2 separate regions of the Homo sapiens genome follow, and region 2 is linked to region 1. Evidence: fine-mapped expression QTL. A gene starts in region 1. The other region holds a variant in brackets. All regions are shown on one strand. Distances are between the middles of the regions. Region 1 holds the start of ARMC2-AS1 (ARMC2 antisense RNA 1). Region 2 holds the start of OSTM1-AS1 (OSTM1 antisense RNA 1).

Region 1 (9,093 bases):
ATAGCAAAACTCAAATTAAATCTGTAATAGTAAGTACAGTGTGGTACAGGTCTGAGGATAAACCAAACAGAATGCCCAGAAACAAACCTGAAATTATATGGAACTTTCTGTCTGATTGACAAAATCAGTGAGAAAGGATGGCATAGTCAGTAAAAGGTGCTGGAACAATCAACTATCCACATGGGAAAAATATGAAGTTGGACCCCTACATGACACTATAAACAAAAATAAATTCCTTATGATTCTACAATGCATTAGATAGGTAGTAATTAGGTATCCAGAACAAAGCTCAGGGAAGTGCAGTATAAAAAGATCAGATCTGGAGGGAAGGAGGGGGCTGGGGCTGAAGAACCACCTGTTGGGTACTATGCTTACTGCCTGGGTAACATGATTGTCGAGACCCCAAGCCTCCACGTCATACAATTTACCCACGTAACAAACCTGTGTACCATTTAATCTATAATACAAGTTGACATTCATTTAAAAAAAAATCAGATTTGGACTCACATCCTTATACAGGGGTCCTGGGGTCAAGTACCAATTCAGTCTTCAGGAAATTTTGCATTTCTTTACAACTACAACATTATAGTTCAAGAAAAGCCTCAGGCTCCCGAGAAGAATCATTATGTAAAAATACTGACAAAGAGCAGCGCGGGAGGAAACAGAAATGCATAATTCAAAGACAGTTCTGAAATTTAACAACATCTTGCTTGGAGGCAACCTGGATTCAAATGATCATTATTTCTGGAAGAAATAAAGTAAGTGTAGACTTGACTAGTGAAAGCTTGAGCCAAAGTTCAAATAGCTGAAATAGAATAACCTTCTATTACAAAGTCACATCAGACTTTCTAAGCATTGATCCCCTTTTTTGAGTTAAAACTCTTGTTTATTTCCTAGCAAACTGGAAGGTTTGCTGTGTTTTGTATACAGTTTTTTATCTCAAATAAGCTGAGAGGAAGATTAAACACACACACGTAGCTCACAACTCACCAAAGAACTAAAATGACTTAACAACCAATGAGTTTAGAATCACAATAGAATCATATAGACAATGGGTTCATTTGTTTGAATTGTTCATTTTTAACTTGGGCCACTAGATTTACCCTTTCTGGTAGGCGAAGTAAAAAGAAGGAAAAGGATTCCTTGCCAGTCACACAAGCAAATATTAAAGATAACCCCAAATCTAAGCATTAGCATTTTTGTAAGGCTACTTCACGTCTTAGTCTACCTACCTGAATATTCTGGCAATATTGGTACAGACGTCCTTGTCACCCTTGTACTGTTCCATTGCCGTGCAGAGCTGGGGAAGGGCACTGATGTTTAGGAACTTACTTCTTACTAATGATGAATCAACCAAGTTTCTCAATGTAGCAGTCACCTAGGATAAAAGCATGCTTGTGCCATTTTTTTTGAACTGAAAAAATATAACCACACGAAACAGCATAGTACAATTCATTTCATAAATTTCCTTATATCAGTAGCTAAGCAAAGCTCCCGCTATGCATCTCCCACCAGGGAATGTGAGCCTAGGCACAAGTAGCAACAAATGAAAACAAAGAAAGCCTAATTTGGTTGAAAGGTAAAGAATGAAATATTAATCTTAGTAAGCAATTGGTATACCCCAAACCCAGGGTTAAACAAACCATCATCTAGGTTTGCTAACACTCCTAAGATCTTCAGCTGGCCCTGTGATAGCCACATCAGTTCTGCAGATTAGAAACTTCTTGTTCTATGTTTTTCTTTCTTTTTTTTTTTTAATTTTATAGGTATTCTTGTCTGATTGTTCTATGCTTTTATAAATAGCATCAGATAATGAATGATGTGGCCAAGGAATATTTAAGATCTTTAGTCTCATTCTCTCCCAAGAGACAAGTATTAAGATCTCACAAATTTGTCTTATTTTATTAAAAAAAAAATTCAGGAAAGCTATCTACTTTACCTTCGTCAAAGAGTCAAGAAGAGAAGAGTTTAGTAAATCATAAAACTAATGTTGTTATCTAATAATTTTAATATGCAGTGTGCTCCTTCCTTGTGGGACACTACAGGAAAGCTACTGGTTAAGAGCCAGTTCAGCCTCACCACCCATCAGCCTGGGTTAGTTATTTAACCTCCCAGAGCTCATTTTTCTCATTCAATAAAGTAGAGGTGATGATACTTCCCTAGCAGTTGTGAGGATTCTATGAGATAAGATGTGTGAATGGCATCGCTGCCATCATCTCTTCCTAGTGAAGTGCCCAGGGGCAGCCACTCCTTCCTCCACTTCCCCATTTCCTCATCTGTGAAAAGCAGATGACAAGCACTGCTCACCTCTCGGGGGGTTGTGTGTAGCAAATGGAAACATGTAGCACTGTTTTTATTACTTATCTAATACTGTAAAGCATCATGTAAACATAAAGCATCCTTACAGCCATAGTATATAAACTTTTAAAAACAATTTTTAAGATGACATGATTAGTTTTTCCTTATAACAACAGCAACAAAAAGATACATTAAAATATAACTGACTACCCTGAAAACACAGAAAATGTAAAAAAAAAAAAAAAAGCTTCAAATAAATGTGTACATGTCTTTTGTAATCAATTCAATTATACAATGATTCTGTAAATTCTTCCCTGAAAGTTTCAGTATCCCAAACATTGGAAGTGAAACAAACTACTTGAGTATTCCACTTAACTCCATAGATCTAAACAATGTCACAATGTAGTCTTCTTCTAAGCTAAGGAATGGACTTTTTTTTTTTGGAGACAGAGTCTCTCTTTGTCATCCAGGCTGGAGTTCAGTGACAGGATCTCAGCTCACTGCAACCTCTGCCTCCCCCATTCAAGCAATTGTCGTGCCTCAGCCTCCCAAGTAGCTGGAATTACAGGTGCGTGCCACCATGTCTGGCTAATTTTTGTATTTTTAGTAAAGACAAGGTTTCGCCATGTTGGCCAGGCTGGTCTCAAACTCCTGGCCTCAAGTGATCCAAGCACCTCAGCCTCCCAAAGCGCTGGGATTACAGGGGTGAGCCACTGCGCCCAGCCAGGAATAGATCTTTTGTGAAGACTAATGAACCATTCTAGGAATTCCATTGCTGTCATAAAATGGAAAATTCTCATCATCTGACCCCGTTTCCACCTGTTCTCCTGAGACAGCCCAGGCACCGGAGCACTACTGGTTTACATTAATTCAGAGGATGCCTCAAAACTCTCTTCCATGGAGACGGAAGAGTACAGATGCCTGTGTAACTCCCATGCAGACAGACATCATGGGAAACCATGAAATACCCATTCCAGTCACTGCACACCAACAGTTCCTTTTCCCTGGTCCCCAAGGCATCAAAGATGGGACATCCCAATCCATAGTCATCTTCACGCTCCCCACATCTAAGCTCTGGCAAGGGACATTGCCAGCAGAAAGGACCATAGTTTCCTTAGGAGCTTTTATTTTCTTGTTTCAATCTCAATTTTTTCTCCTTCTCAGGCCTTATTCTCACCTCATTAGCAAAAGTTTAGACAGCTCAAGTTTCTTCTGCCCCACATACATAACTTTCATAAATAACCCAAGTCAGGAGAGAAAGCCCACATTTATATGTGACATGTCATTTGATTGAAATTCCTACCCATTTACTGCACGTGATACACACAGTTGAGTAATATACAATACCTCACGTATTTCCAAATTTGTCATTTGTGGTGCTGGTAGAAATAACATGCATGAAACATATACCATACATTTGAAAAATACACAGCAATAGCTCAATAGATGACACCATCAACCTAGTTGCTCAAGCAGAGATATCCCAGAATCCTGCCTTTCTGCTTTCTGTTACTCCAAGCCATATTGGCTTTTTGTCCATAGCTCCCAGGATAATATTCAGTTCCCTGACCATGGTCTACAAGGCTCAACAGATCTGTTCCTTCTCAACCCGTCAAGCTTCATCTCATACCATATATGCCCCCATAAACTCTACTTAATGCTAGGTTATTTAATATTATGGTTTACTATCTGTCTACTCCTCCAGACTAGACGCTTCAGTGAAGGCATAAACCTTGTTCATCCTTTTCACCATTGTACATCCAGCTCCAAGTCCAGTGCCTGGTACATGGTGGGCGCTCAATAGGCATTTATTAATGGAATGAATGAAGGGGTGGACATCTACAAAGGAAAGACTGGGATATCAGAACACCATGGGCTAAGCAGACAATATCTCTGAGGTAGACAGATTTTAAGATTTTTTTTGAAAGCAGAGGAGTAAAAAATAATGGATGAAAGAAAAATGGACTCTGTAGTTACCCAGCTCAGGCTAACTTGTCTATGTTTAAGACCTTTCAGAGGCCGATCAGTCGCTTCCTCTTCCGTGTTAACAAAGCATCCTGTTCCTGCCTCTATAACCCCCATCCATCACAGAATAAAAAATAACGGATGAAAGAAAAATGAACTCTCTGGAAGGGGACCAGCCTCTGTGTATTTGTTCTCTAGCCTATCTCATTTCTGACAGCAGCTCCTTCCCAAGCTCCTAAACTCCCGGGCCCCACCCCTTTCCCCACCTGACTGGTCACACGTTCACCCCTTCTCTCCATCACCAGCGTCACTGGTTCAGTTTAAGCTCACTTCATCTCTTACCCAAACTCTACAGCCCCCTGGATGGGCTCCTTCCACAGTTTGCCCCCATAGCTGCTCACTGCTGCCAGAGGGGGCATCTCAAAGCTCCGCCTTCCCTGCTCAAAGGCCTCCTGCGACTTCCGGCCCAGCCAGTAGCACCCATAGCCTAAAGGTTCCTCAGTCTCTGAAGTGTGGTTTATCCCTCCAAACTCATCTCCTTTGCCTCGGCACCACCCTGGCCATCTTTCAGACTCTGCACCACATGAGGTCCTCAACCCTTCATGACGCCATGCCTTTGAATAGGCGGCTTCCTCCGCCCAGAGTGCCCTCGATTACACTTTGCCACCCCTTCTCCCCCGGGCCATCTCCTGCTCATTTTTTTCTTTTTTCTTTTTCGAGACAGAGTCTCGATCTCGGCTCACTGCAACCTCCGCCTCCTGGGTTCAAGCGATTCTCCTGCCTCAGCCTCCCGAGTAGCTGGGATTACAGGCAAGCACCACCACACCCTGCTAATTTTTGTATTTTTAGTAGAGACAGGGTTTTGCCATGTTGGCCAGGCTGGTCTTGAACTCCTGACCTCAAGTGATCCGCCCGCCTCGGCCTCCCAAAGTGCTGGGATCACAGACATGATCCACCGCGCCCGGCCTCCTGCTCATTTTTCAAAACCCAGCTCAAGATAACTTCTCTGTGAAGTCCTTTCCGAGGCTGATCAGTCACTTCCTCTCCTTCCTCTTCCGTGTTACCAAAGCATCCTGTTCCTGCCTCTACAACCCCCATCACAGAAGCATTGTCACTTGTCTTCAGGCATCTTCTCTCCCATGGTGAGCTCCTCTAGGGTACAAACCACTTCTTATTCCTCTTTCTATTCAGAGGACAACAAATGTGCTCATAAAAAGCTCTTAAATGTTCAGCTACTGGAGGGCTGGAAGAGTGAATGAGAAGGGGAAGGAGGAGGGGAATGAGGAGGGGGAAGAAAGAAAGAAGGGACAGGAGCGACAAAAGAGAGGTTTTTCCCTTTAAGACACCTCTGGCAAGAAAGTGCGGGAGCTTAGCAGAGGCCTGGGTGAACCAGGGCCTAAAACCCTGAGGGAGAAGGATCAGGAAAAGGCCACCACGCAGATGCAGCTCTGAAGGCCCTGTATCTTGAGAGACTTGTCACCAACCTCTGAGAGCCACCAATCTCACTGTGGGATGATGGTGGGGCCCTGAATGCTCAGACCAGTGGCCTTTTCTGGAAAAAATGCAGGAAAAAAAAAAAAAAAAGGGTGTGGGGAGGAGAGTCTAGCTAAATCATGTGGTCACAGTAAAGGCAAGTTCCAAGTCAACCCATTTAACTGAATTTTGCTCCTACTTTTGAATTCATTATATACAAGTGAAAATTAAAAAAAAGAAAACAAGAACTCTCAGTTGAACAGAGATAAATCTGTGAAAATTATCAATGAGTTCTGTGCTCTACAGCAGGGTCTTTATTTCCCACCCTCAAGAAAAGCCCACCCACTGGGCCCTCCCCCAAAGCAGGAGTTAACCAAAGCCCAAGCTTCATGCTTGGAGGTGTGCATCCATTTCTTTCTTAACTTTCTATTCTAATTTATATTATCTATAAATGCACAAACTTAAACACACATTTTTCTTTTTTATTGTATATAATCTTTCAAACCACCTCAAATCCCTTACTTAAAAAAAGTCTTGTTTAGTCTCTAAAGGACTTAGTAGAGAAATTCTCAACCTCTTAAGTAGCATTTCACCAAGAAATAGCACACTGAAAAACACAAGTTTTAATTCCTATCTTTTCCCCCATCTCTTAACTTGCAATCCTGTGGGACTTGCAATCCTGAAGGCAGCCCATAGGAAGAAGAAAAAAGAGAAGAAAATGACACTGATAATCCACAAAGAGGACTAATACAAATGTAAGTTTCCTTGCTTATTAGCAATTGTTAGGTGATGTTTAGGACAAAAGGGGACCTAAGGTTTTGGTAAATACCCAGGAAGAAACATTCCATTTTGCTTCTGGTTACCAATCTACTACTGAAAAATGACTGAGCTACACTTGACAACTTTCTGGTGCTCACTTTTCTGAGAAAGCTTCTTTCCATGTTCCCCAAATTATTTGATCATAACAGGTACCACCCTCAGTCAGGGAAAACACCTGGAGACTTGGCAAAGCTACCCAGCTCACATTGAATTATGTAAGCCTCAAAGTTTTCATTGTGTAGTCAGTATTGGGAGACCCATTTTAAAGGGAAAAAATGTACTAAGAAGAAATTAGATCATTTATAAATGCACAACTACATTTTAATACAGTAAAATGAGAACTCAAAAGCTTTAGCTTCTGTTTTTTTCAAGTTGACTATAGGTACTTAATTATCAATTTCAAATTGTGTTTTCAACTATTAATTAATTGAGAAACCTTAGCAAACACAGGAAATATTTGTCTTAAAATATGGGGCTGGGCCCAGTGGCTCAGGTCTGTAATCCCAGCGACTCTCATGGCTGAGGCAGGAGAATCGCCTGAACCCCAGAGGCTGAGGCTGCAGTGAGCCATGCCTTTGATCGCACCACCGCACTCCAACCTGAGTGACACAGTGAGACTCTGTCTCAAGAAAAAAAAAAGGGTGGGGGGGCCCTCCGGACTTGGATCACTGGACTTGAGGACACAACACAGGCCCAGCAGCTGTGGTCTCATTCCTGCGTTCTCTACTGCAGTGGGTGGGTGCGAGGTGGGGCAACCTCCACACACACTGATCATGTCCAGAGTGGACGGCCCTCTCTTTTCCCTCTGTGCCCTTCCTCCATCAGAGTACTCTGTCCTCAAGGAACTCACCAGATTCTGCTCTAGAAGGCAACCTGCCATCAGAGCTGCCCCAGATCAGAGGAGCTTGTGACTCATTGAAGCTCAGAAGTCTATCAGCTCCCAGGTAGGCTAGTGCCCTGGCCTCAGTTTCTTGGTCTATTGCCTCCCTACTCTATTTGGCACTGGTCTCTAAAAGCATTTTGCAATCATCTGGAATATCCACAACTGAAATCCCTCGAGCTTTGTCTCAACTTAACTGCCAACTGCAAAATTGTTGACTTCCCACTGATGATGTAAAAGAATAAACGCAGCCGCCAGAGACCACAAACAGTGTGAAATGATTTATGACTAAAGCCACTATTTTCCAACCTCAGCTAAGCCATCTCCCTCTATTAATAAAGGCAGATTCATTTCTTTGAACTTGTGCCCAATTGAGGCCACATATATGCCAAAACCAGAGCCTGTGTGGTAACCCAAGAAGTTTCATATTGTCTCATATATGATTTGTACAGTTCTGGCTGAGACAAAAGAAACCAATGACAAGATGCTGCTAGACATGTGAAATCACTGGTAACATGCATGTCTAAGCTTTTCTTGGAATTTATTAAGATATATGCATATGAAGGTAATATTAATTAATAATCCTTGATAACACTCGGTGCCTGGCTACACAGGCCTACTTGGCACATCCCTACCATGGGTGTCCGACTTAGCAGGAAATGCTTCTGTCCTCCTTAAACCTCCAATGTCCTACTTTGAGACTCTATTTAACATTTGGCTCTGTTTATTGTTGTTTCTCCATTTACTGCCTCTATGCCAGTTACTTCACTAAAATGAGTAGGTAGCTGATTCTTCTAGTTGTGGCTATGTATGTATTCAATACAGGAGAAATTTTGAATATCATACAAACAATCTAGAATGGCAATGCAGCAAAACAAGAAAAAGGAGTCTGAAAAAGATAGTGCATTAAGAACTACCAAGCAATGAAACCACTATTCACAATTATATGCTAAAGCTAGTGACATTTCCTTACTGCCACAACTAATAGATCTACAGTGAAGAGAGGAGGCTGAGCAGACAGAGCACTAATTGAGAGCAAATGGCTCTCCTCAGACACAGTAGGAGCCTCATTTCCACCCTTGATCTGTCTTTTAGCATAACACTCCTGGCCATCCACCGCCCTCACTTCCTGATTGGTGAGCTTGGGACAGGAATCAGACCCTCCCAGTCCAGCCCCTACCTGGTCCCTCTCTTCCCTTCCTCTTTTAGAAGTGAGCTGCCATCAGAACAAAGGTGTTCTGCTCCTCCAGGGACAGACATGGTCTGTGACTGGGTGGGTAAATCTAATTCTAGGACTCAGGATTAGAAAGCATGCCTGCCTCAGCTATCAGCCACATCCTCCAACCACGGTGATAACTTTATCCCCATCCCCAGCCTCCTTAGCCTCTTATTTCCAAGTAAAAAACCCAAGGCATTACATATTTAGGTTTCTGAGTCTTCTCAGATCTTCAGATCTGCTGTCCCTGGAAAATTGGAGGAGAACATGAGTTGCCTATAGACAGCTCCTTCCTAGGAAAGGGAAGAGAAGGGAAGAGGAAGAACCTGGGCCCCAAATGCCTACTCTCTCGTGGCAACTGGGCACGTGAGTGGTTAGTTATGCTGCTGGCAATTCTTTTATAGGAAGGAAGCCCCATAAGTAGAAAATAGCTGTCTCCTTC
Region 2 (9,093 bases), 800 kb after region 1:
TCCCATATCCAAAGAATCTCTATTTCCCCCGAAAGCTCTGTGCCTTTGATTTCAGTTTTATTGCATGTGTACTTAGCACACCTATGTTGCTAAATTGCTCTATATTCCTTTGCAGGTACAGCTAGAAGAGTATAAAGGCCCTCAACCAATTGAACTAAGAGACTGTTAGTAGTCAATTGGTGTAGCTCTGGGGCTGAGCTACATAAAGTGGCCCCATCCAGCTCCTCTGTCCCCCTAACTTTGCTTGATGATGTACCATGTCTGCCCCTAAACAGCATATTAGAATTACCTGATGGGCTTTAAAAAACTCCCAAGACCTGAGCTGCACCTCAGACTGATTACATAAGAATTTCTGGTGGGGGAAACTAGAGTATGGTATGTTTATTAAAGCTTCCTCAGGGGACTCCAATGTGCACTTATATATCTAAATCTAAGGTGATTTATGTAGTTGAGATTTATGAGATGAGAACTATGCTAGTTAATTTCTTTTTATTTTTTAGAGAGGGTCTCTCTCCATCACCCAGGCTAGAGGATCTCGGCTCACTGCAACCTCTGCCTCCCAGGTTCAAGCCGTCCTCCCATCTCAGCCTCCTGAGTAGCTGGGACTACAGGCACACACCATCGTGCCTGGCTAATTTTTGTATTTTTAGTAGAGACGGGGTTTCACCATGTTGGCTAGGCTGTTCTCCAACTCCTGCCCTCAACTGATCCACCACCTCAGCCTCCCAAAGTGCTGGGATTACTGGTATGAGCCACTGTGCCCCACCAAGGCTAAAGAAGTTTTGAGGTGCATGCTGGAAAATGTCTAGATTGCTGAGGAGGGGTTGTTGATAGAAATATGGACTTTATTTATTTATTTTTTTTTGAGACAGAGTCTTGCTCTGTTGCCCAGGCTGGAGTGCAATGGCACGATCTCGGCTCACTGCACCCTCCGCCTCCCAGGTTCAAGCAATTCTCTTGCCTCAGCCTCCCAAGTAGCTGGGACTATAGGTGCGCACCACCCGCCCAGCTATATTTTGTATTTTTGGTAGAGATGGGGTTTCGCCATGTTGCCCAGGCTGGTTTCGAACTCCTGGTCTCAAGTGATCAGCCTGCCTTGGCCTTCCAAAGTGCTGGGATTACAGGCGTGAGCCACCACGGCTGGCCGAAATATGGACTTTAAAGACAGTTCTGGTGAAGACTCGGAAAGAGAAGAGAGTTGGAGAGAAAGCCTTCATTTTCTTAGAGAATACACATAAATAGCAATGAGCAGAATGTTGGTAGAAACGTAGACCTCGCCAATCTGGTAAGGTCTCAGACAGAAATGATGAACAATTATTGGAAACTAGAGAAAAGGTGCTCTTTGTTGTAAAGGGAAAACGAACTTTGCTGGGCTGCGTTCTAGTGTTTTGTGGAAGGTAGAACTTGTGAGCAATAAAATTGGATATTTAGCAGAGAAGATTTCCAAGCAAGGTATTGAAAGTGAGGCGTGGGTCTGCCTTACTGCTTATAGTAAAATGCAAGAGGGCAGCGATAAATTGAAGAAGGAATTGTTAAACGAAAAGACATCAGAACTTGAAGATGTGGAAAATTCTTAGCCTATTCATATTGCAAAAAAATGAGGAATCATGTTCTGAAGAGAACACTAAGGGTGTGGCTGAGTGACTATTTAATAATGAGGTTAATGTGGATGTGAACTACGATCTAATCAGCCATCTCAGCAGAAGCCAGGAATGGAGGTAGGATTATACCAGCAAAACTTCACTAGCTGGGAGAAAACTGGCCAGAATGAAGGAAGGCTGTGAACATGAGCTATCCTTTAAGAAAGAGAAAAGTGACCTGAAGCCAGTTCAGAGATCACCAAGGCTGTCACTCCCACCACAAGCCCAGAGGCAAGACTATTTTCTCCTCAGTTTCAGAAGGCAGAGCCCTTGAAGACAGCCATATGTGCAGGGCCTTTCTCAAGAGCTGGAGAGGTGGGGCACCCTCTGAGCTGAAGAATTATTCTCAAGCCTTACCATCTAATGGAAGTTGCCTTTCCAGGTTTTGGACTTTCTTGAGACCTATCACCCTTTCCTTTTTTGCTCTTTCTCCCTTTTAGAATGGGAATGTCAACCCTATGCCTGTCCCACCATTGTAGTTTGGAAGCATATGATTTTTCTGGTTTTATGGGTTGCTAGCTGAAGAGGAATTTTGCTTCAGGATGAATCATACATTGAGTCTCACCCATATCTGATTTAGGTGATATTTAGATGAGATTTTGGACCTGAAACTTTGAGTTGATGCTGGAATTAGTTAAAACTTTGGGGGCTATTGGGGTAGAATGCATGTATTTGCATGTGAGAAGGATATGAATTTGGGGGGACCAGGAGGCAGAATGTTATGGACTGGATATGTGTGTTCCCTCAAAACTCACTTGTTAAAGCCCTAAACCCCCATGTGCCTGTATTTGGAGACAGGGTCTGTAAGAAGGTGATAAAGGTTAAATTAGCTCATAAGGGTGGGGCTGTAATTCAATAGGACTTGTGCCCTTAAAAGAAGAGGAAGAGACACTTGAGCTCTTTCTGTCTCTGCCATGTGAAGACACAGAGAAGGCAGCCACTTGCAAGCCAGGAAGAGGGCCCTCACCAGAAACCAAATCAAGCAGCACTTTGATTTTGTAATTCTCAGACTCCAGAACTGTGAGAAAATGAATTTCTGTTGTTTAACTCACCTAGTCTATGGTATCTTATTATGGCAGCCTGAGCAGACTAATATAAGAATCATACAAAGGTGATACCAATCACTGCCCCAACCCATATTCCCTTTTAAAATAACCCACCCTGGCCCACTGGTCCAGCTGCCCTGTGGGCCACATGCTCCTGGTGCCCTCAGTTTATTGACCAGAGGTAAGCACCTGACCCAGGTAACTCACCCCCACCCTGGCCATGGGCCCCTGTAACATTTCCCCCATGAAATCCACAAATTAGAGCTTCCTTTAGGTTACGAAGACCTTCTTTTGAATTGCGTCTTCTCTAGTGATCATTCATGTTAGAATGAGTTAACTTGGTCAGATAATCTTAATACTCAACTAAAAAGCTGGTTGTGACAGTAATTTTGAAGCCTGAGGCACTTCCAAAAGGGACAGGCCCAGGAAGTGTGTAGTGGTTACAAACTTTCAGGAGCGAAGGACAGCATGGGTAAGGGAGACCACGGGAGAAGTGGCTAGGAAGCAGGTTAGGGAGGGCGATGGGAGATTGAAGGATGCAAGTCAAACCTGGCCTGCATTGCCATTTCCCCCAGGCTTTCTGATCAAACGAACCCTCCATCTTTCCCATCCAAGTCATCCTGAGGGTGACCTTTATCCTAACTATCCTAATCAGAGCAAATTGTATTGTAAGGGAGTATTAGTCCATTTTCCTGCTGCTGATAAAGACATACCTAAGACTGGGCTATTTACAAAAGAAAGAGGGTTAATGGATTTACAGTTCCATGTGGCTGGGGAAGCCTTACTCTCATGGCAGAAGGTGAAAGGCATGTCTCACGTGGCAACATACAAGAGAAAAAAGAGCTTTTGCAGAGAAACTCCCATTTTTAAACCATCAGATCTCTTGAGACCCACTCACTATCATGAGAACAGCACGGGAAAGACCCGCCCCTGTGATTCAATCACCTCCCACCAGGTTCCTCCCATAGCACATGGGAATTGTGGGAGTTACAATTCAAGATGAGATTTGGGTGGGGACACTGCCAAACCATATCAAAGGGTAAGAGACCTCTTCTAACTTCCTTATGTATTGGGATAAGGGATGGTGGTTACTGAGTGGAAACGGGAAATATAGCAGAGCGTTTTGGGAAATTGTAGGTATTTCTCTCTCTCTCCCTCTCTCTCTTTCCTCTCTGTGGCCCTGTAGCTTCTTGTGTTAGCTTACCACCTGGGCAGATGTGCCCACTCCCTCTGCACAATAGCTCTCTCAGCCACAACAGTCAGGGATGGACCTGGCAAGGGGTTTAAGTTACCAAGCATCTACTGAGGAAATTCATGCTGAAAATTCCTATTCAGATTGTTAGAAACAGCCAAATATACCTTTTTTTTTTTCTATTTTAAATCCTAAATAACTAGATTCAAATTTGGATTAATGGGTACACTGGGGAATGAAGTAATCTGATTCATTTTATTTTCTGATGAAACCTTCAAGTTAACCAGAAAATGCTTTTTTCTTAAAAAAAGAAAAGAAAAACAACAGTACCCAAAAGTGTTTCTAAAATATTTACTTTTCTCTCTTTGTAAACATAGTGACAATATTTGTGTTCTCCTGGTGATGTGTGAGTCATGAGTTTAAACAGCAGTTCCCATGGAAGGGATCACAGGAAGAAATTAAAACAGAACTGGGTTTATGGGTCAGAGCATGCCTCAGCCCAGCGGTGACATCAGAGGAGCCTCAGGCATGTCACTGAACCTTTTTGAGTCCTGCTTTCCTACTATGGGGAGGGAAAATGAAGGTGGTCATGCTTGTCCTTTTCGTCAGGGATAATTACTTTAAATTTATATGTGAAAGTAATTAGTAAATTGAAAGTTATGTTGTTATTTTAGTCTTTGGCATATACCAGGGGTCCCCAACCCCCAGGCCATGGACAAGTACTGGTCCATGGCCTGTTAGGAACTGGGCCACACAGCAGGAGGTGAGCAGAAGGTGAGTGAGCATTACCACCTGAGCTCCGCCTCCTGTCATATCAGCGGCAGCATTCGATTCTCATAAAAGTGCAAAGCCTATTGTGAACTGCATAGGCGAGGGATCTAGGTTGCCCGCTCCTTATGAGAATCTAATGTCTGGTGATCTGAGGTGGAACAGTTTCATCCCAAAACCATCCCTCCACACCTGTCTGTGGAAAAATTGTCTTCTATGAAATTGGTCCATGCCAAAAAGGTTGCCAAAAAGGTTGGGGACCACTGGTACATAGGACTTGCTCTATAAATGTTTGTTGAATGATTTCTGCAGTGCTAATGAGCTCCATGCACAAGGTTTAGGAAATTGGGCTGAATCTGTACAAATCCCAGATCATACTTTGAAAAACTGTGATTAGTTTTCTTGATACTAAATTCCTCATATGAGCTTGTCCTGTTAGCACTTTCTTTCACAAAGTGAGATGTAGAAAAAAAAAAAGTAAATTGAGCGTTCAGTTCATTGAGTTCAGGTTTAACTGAGCTGCT[A/G]CTATACAATACAGTCAAGCTGCTACTATACAATACAGTCATTAATAATGTATTCTACTTTTTTAACTTATTCAACAAATATTTACCAAGGAGTATGTTGTTGAACAGGAACAAACATGGTCCCTGCCCTCATGGAGCTGACAATCTGGTAATTGAAGCACCCTCATACATTAAAAAGGCACTGGGGAGATGCTTCACCTCTCCCTCATGGGTTTTCTCAGTCCCTTCCAACATCACTTCTGACCAGGACTAGAAAGAAGTGGGGAAAGCAGGACAAACACGAGGGTCTGGCAGTCCAAAAAAGGGCTGGGGACTGAACACAAACCCCACATCAAGATTTTCAGATCACTGTTCCTGGCTGGGAGTTGGAAAGCTTGTTTTTTCTTCTTTTGTCACTGAGGCTAGAATATTCTCAGTGATCCTGCTTTTTTTTTTTTTTTTTTTCTAACAGTATCCAAATGCCATGTCTTGGTTTAACTTCAATCTGACAGTAACAAATATTTTTGAGAGCCTATGAAGGGTCAGGCACTGTGTTGGGCACTTTCCATATTTTGTCGTTAATTCTCATAACAACTTTGCAAGGTAGATACTATTACTATTCTCAATCTGCATTTGAAGAAATTGCAGCTTGTAGAGGATGTGGCCAAGATCACAATAGGTGGTTACAACAGAAATAAACCCAGTTCTGTCCTACTTGAGTGCCTTTCCTCTTCCTGCCTAGCCATGCAGGGCCTATAGTCAAACAGAACAGTGGGAACTTTGTTTTCCTATTTCTTCCCACAATAGGAGGGAAATGCTTTTCCAACACATCAAAGAATAATGATAACAATAGCTAATATTAACTGAGCAATTACTATGTGCCAGACACTATTCTAAGATCTTTACATATATCAACTCATTTAATCCTCATAAACCTATGAGTGGTTACTCTTATTATTTAATGTTATCTATCTGTCATTTTATAGATAAGAAATGGAGAGGTTAAGCAATATGGCAGAGGCAGTTTGAACTCAAGTTACCTGAGTCTAGAACTTTAAAATTGTTATTTCAGGCAGGGTGCGGTAGCTCATGTCTGTAATCCCAGCACTTTGGGAGGCCAAGGCAGGTGGGTCACTTGAGGTTAGGAGTTTGAGACCAGCCTGGCCAACATAGTGAAACCCTGCCCCTAACAAAAATACAAAAAATTAGCCAGGCGTGATGGCAGGTGCCTGCAATCCCAGCTACTTGGGAGGCTGAGTTGAACCCAGGAGGAAGAGGTTGTAGTGAGCCAATATGGTACCATTGCAGTCCAACCTGGGCAACAAGAATGAAACTCCATCTCAAAAAAAAAAAAAAGTTGTTATTTCATCCCAAATAAGTACACTACTTTCAACATCTATCACAGTTTTCTTAAGTTGCTGAAATAAAGGATGGGAGTGACCCCTCCGTCCTCACCTCCTACCCCCATGAGCAGAAGACACAATTCTGTCCACCCATAGTCTGTGTGAATGTTTCCCTCCAGCACAGTGCAGTGTGGAACCTATATAACTGTAAGCTGCAGCCATGAATTCCATCCACCATGAAATGGCACATGACCAAAAAATGCATGTACTGTATTCTAAATCTGAGCTATCTGCCTAATTTAGTTTTTGTTCCCAAGTGTAAAACATTCCAAATGTATAACATATCCCATAGATATGTGAGTTCCCTCAAAGGGTTAACAGCTCTCCTTGAGAAGAGGAATTGAAGAAACCTGAGAAACATTTTCTTTACCAGTTCAGGCAGGTGACAGAAAGGTAAAAAATTAATTTTAAAAATATGAGATGTTTGGGTCTTTATTCCCACTGGCTGGCTATTTGGGCAAATTGGGCAGTGGCATCACTGATTGGGCTCCAACTGCGGGCACAGCAGAGGCAGAAGGCAGCAGGAAATTATCAGGGCATCAGGCTGATGAATTCTAACCTCAGTCCACTAATGTCTCACCTAAGAACACGCTCCTTCTTTCTGCATCTCGGAGACACACATGAAGGTTCTCTGAAGCAGGCTGATATCCTCTAACGTAAAGGATGATATCCTATAGTTTATGGCTGGAACCATTAAGGGTGCTTGATAACTGCTCATTAAATAAATTAAGTGCCTAAAATATAATTACTGATGTTCTACTTTTCCCCTGTCTTTGCTGCACCACAGGAAAAAGTTTCCACGGCCATTGATTTATATGAGCAAAAACCAAAATTAAATTAAGAGGTCACACACCAGTAGCAAAAACAAAATGAGGAAAACATTTTCTAATGTTTTACTGCAAAGGAATCGGGGCTTTTACGTAATAGCAAAATTAGGGTTTAGATGGTAGTATTCTTTCAACCAACTTTTCACAAATATTTCCTGGAACTGGCCCAAGGAATGAATCCTAATTTAGCCTAATCTTTTTCAGATGTAATTGAATTCACTTGTTTAGGTTTCTGCCTCCTCCACCTTTCATCCGGTGGCAACACACGAGTGTGGCTTAGCTCTCACAGGGCCCACGGTTTAGTCTGCAGGCCATGTTGGGATCCACTTCTCCAGGGATTGGCCAGAGATCTCTGAGGCTCTCAGTCCTTTCTTCTACAGCTACTGTTTTCCCCCCACCCCTGAGAAATTCCTCCAGACCTTGTTTGTACTCCCCCATCTACTTATCAACTCCCCCCTCCACCTCTCTGCACCCCAATCACCAAAGTTTACTATGAAAATGAGTGACCCCATTTGCTGAGAAAGAGATAGTCTCTGGGAGCAATTGAGTGAGAGAAAACATGAACAAAAAGTCTAGAACCCTTGACTGAAATCACTTAGGATTGCACTAGCTGCCACTGAGCTGAAGCAACATGCATTCCTAGTGGCTAAGGGATCCGTGAAGCATGAGCTCGAATCCCTAGCTTTTGTTGTGTGGGGCTCAGGAAAGGATTTAGCACTACCTACATCAGGTTGGAGTGAAAGGTTTCTAAGGACGCACTCATTCCCATGATAGCCTCTGAGACCTCAGGCCTCTGGCTGGGCATCTGCTCAGCCCGGGGACAGGAAACCAGCTCCACAGGGAGGACAGGCTTGCCAGACAATCCCCACCCCAGGCAGGCACCCCCCTTGTGCTCCCGGAGCTCTCCCTGGCAGGGTGGTGGCTCGCTGACAGTTCATCAGGTTTTACAAACATTAGCTTCTACATCTGCTCTTTGAGCTTAAAAATCTCTTCAGATGAAGGCGCTACAAGGGTAAGAAGCCTGTGTCTCTCTCCTTTCTGTCCTTGAGTGGAAATGTAGAGATAGTTTTTAAAGAAGAATTTGATTCGGATGTAGAAACTTAAACAAAAAGACTTGTTTATTTCCTCTTTGGGGATTCTTTTCTCCCACTATGTGTATCAGAGGCTAATTGCTGTGGACACGCACGTGCACACACACACACACACACATACCTGCAAACACCAGCACCGGCAGTCTCTGCTCTTGTACTCACATTTCATCCTGAGGATGCGGGTGCCTCTAGAACAAGAGCCCACAGTCAATGCGGAGTAGAGTTTGGTGAGGAGCCAGCAGGCCGGTGGGCCCCCGTCTTGCCATGAGTGGTTCTTTAGGCTGGTTCTCGGCGGGAATCAGAGTCTGCGTGATTTCTGCCATGGCTTCCCAGAACCTAGTTGTCCCGTCTCCAACTGCAGCCTTCTACGTGCAACAAGGGAATGTGGGCTTCTTTGAAACAGGCTTCTTAGAGCAGGAGTGTAGGCAGCCAAGTGTGAAGGGTGTCAGCCGGGGTGGCACGCCCTGGGGGAAGATGTGGGACCAGCTGGGTCCTGGGCCAACTGCAAAAGAGGGGAAGCCTGCTATGAGAGACAGAGCAGTTCTCCAAGGATCCCACTTGCTCCAGAACTGTCTTTTGTCATTTTAAAGTGGCGCTGTCATCACTGGTCTTACCTTGGCTCC

What was found.
Region 2: its variant is fine-mapped to the expression of ARMC2-AS1 in blood mononuclear cells (TOPMed, PIP 0.96).

The regions. Positions count from the first base shown.
Region 1 is chr6:108,920,373-108,929,465 of GRCh38, reverse strand. ARMC2-AS1 (ARMC2 antisense RNA 1) reads left to right here and starts at 5,363. Exons shown (of 3, transcript NR_104137.1): 1 at 5,363-5,405; 2 at 6,422-6,491. ARMC2 (armadillo repeat containing 2) reads right to left here. Exons shown (of 18, transcript NM_032131.6): 11 at 1,233-1,378. RefSeq lists an enhancer at 8,021-8,931.
Region 2 is chr6:108,123,274-108,132,366 of GRCh38, reverse strand. It overlaps OSTM1-AS1 (OSTM1 antisense RNA 1), which reads right to left and starts at 8,734. Exons shown (of 2, transcript NR_145458.1): 1 at 8,592-8,734. All of the region lies in intron 1 of LOC124901368 (a long non-coding RNA gene), which reads left to right. The variant A/G (reference allele first, on the strand shown) is at 5,171.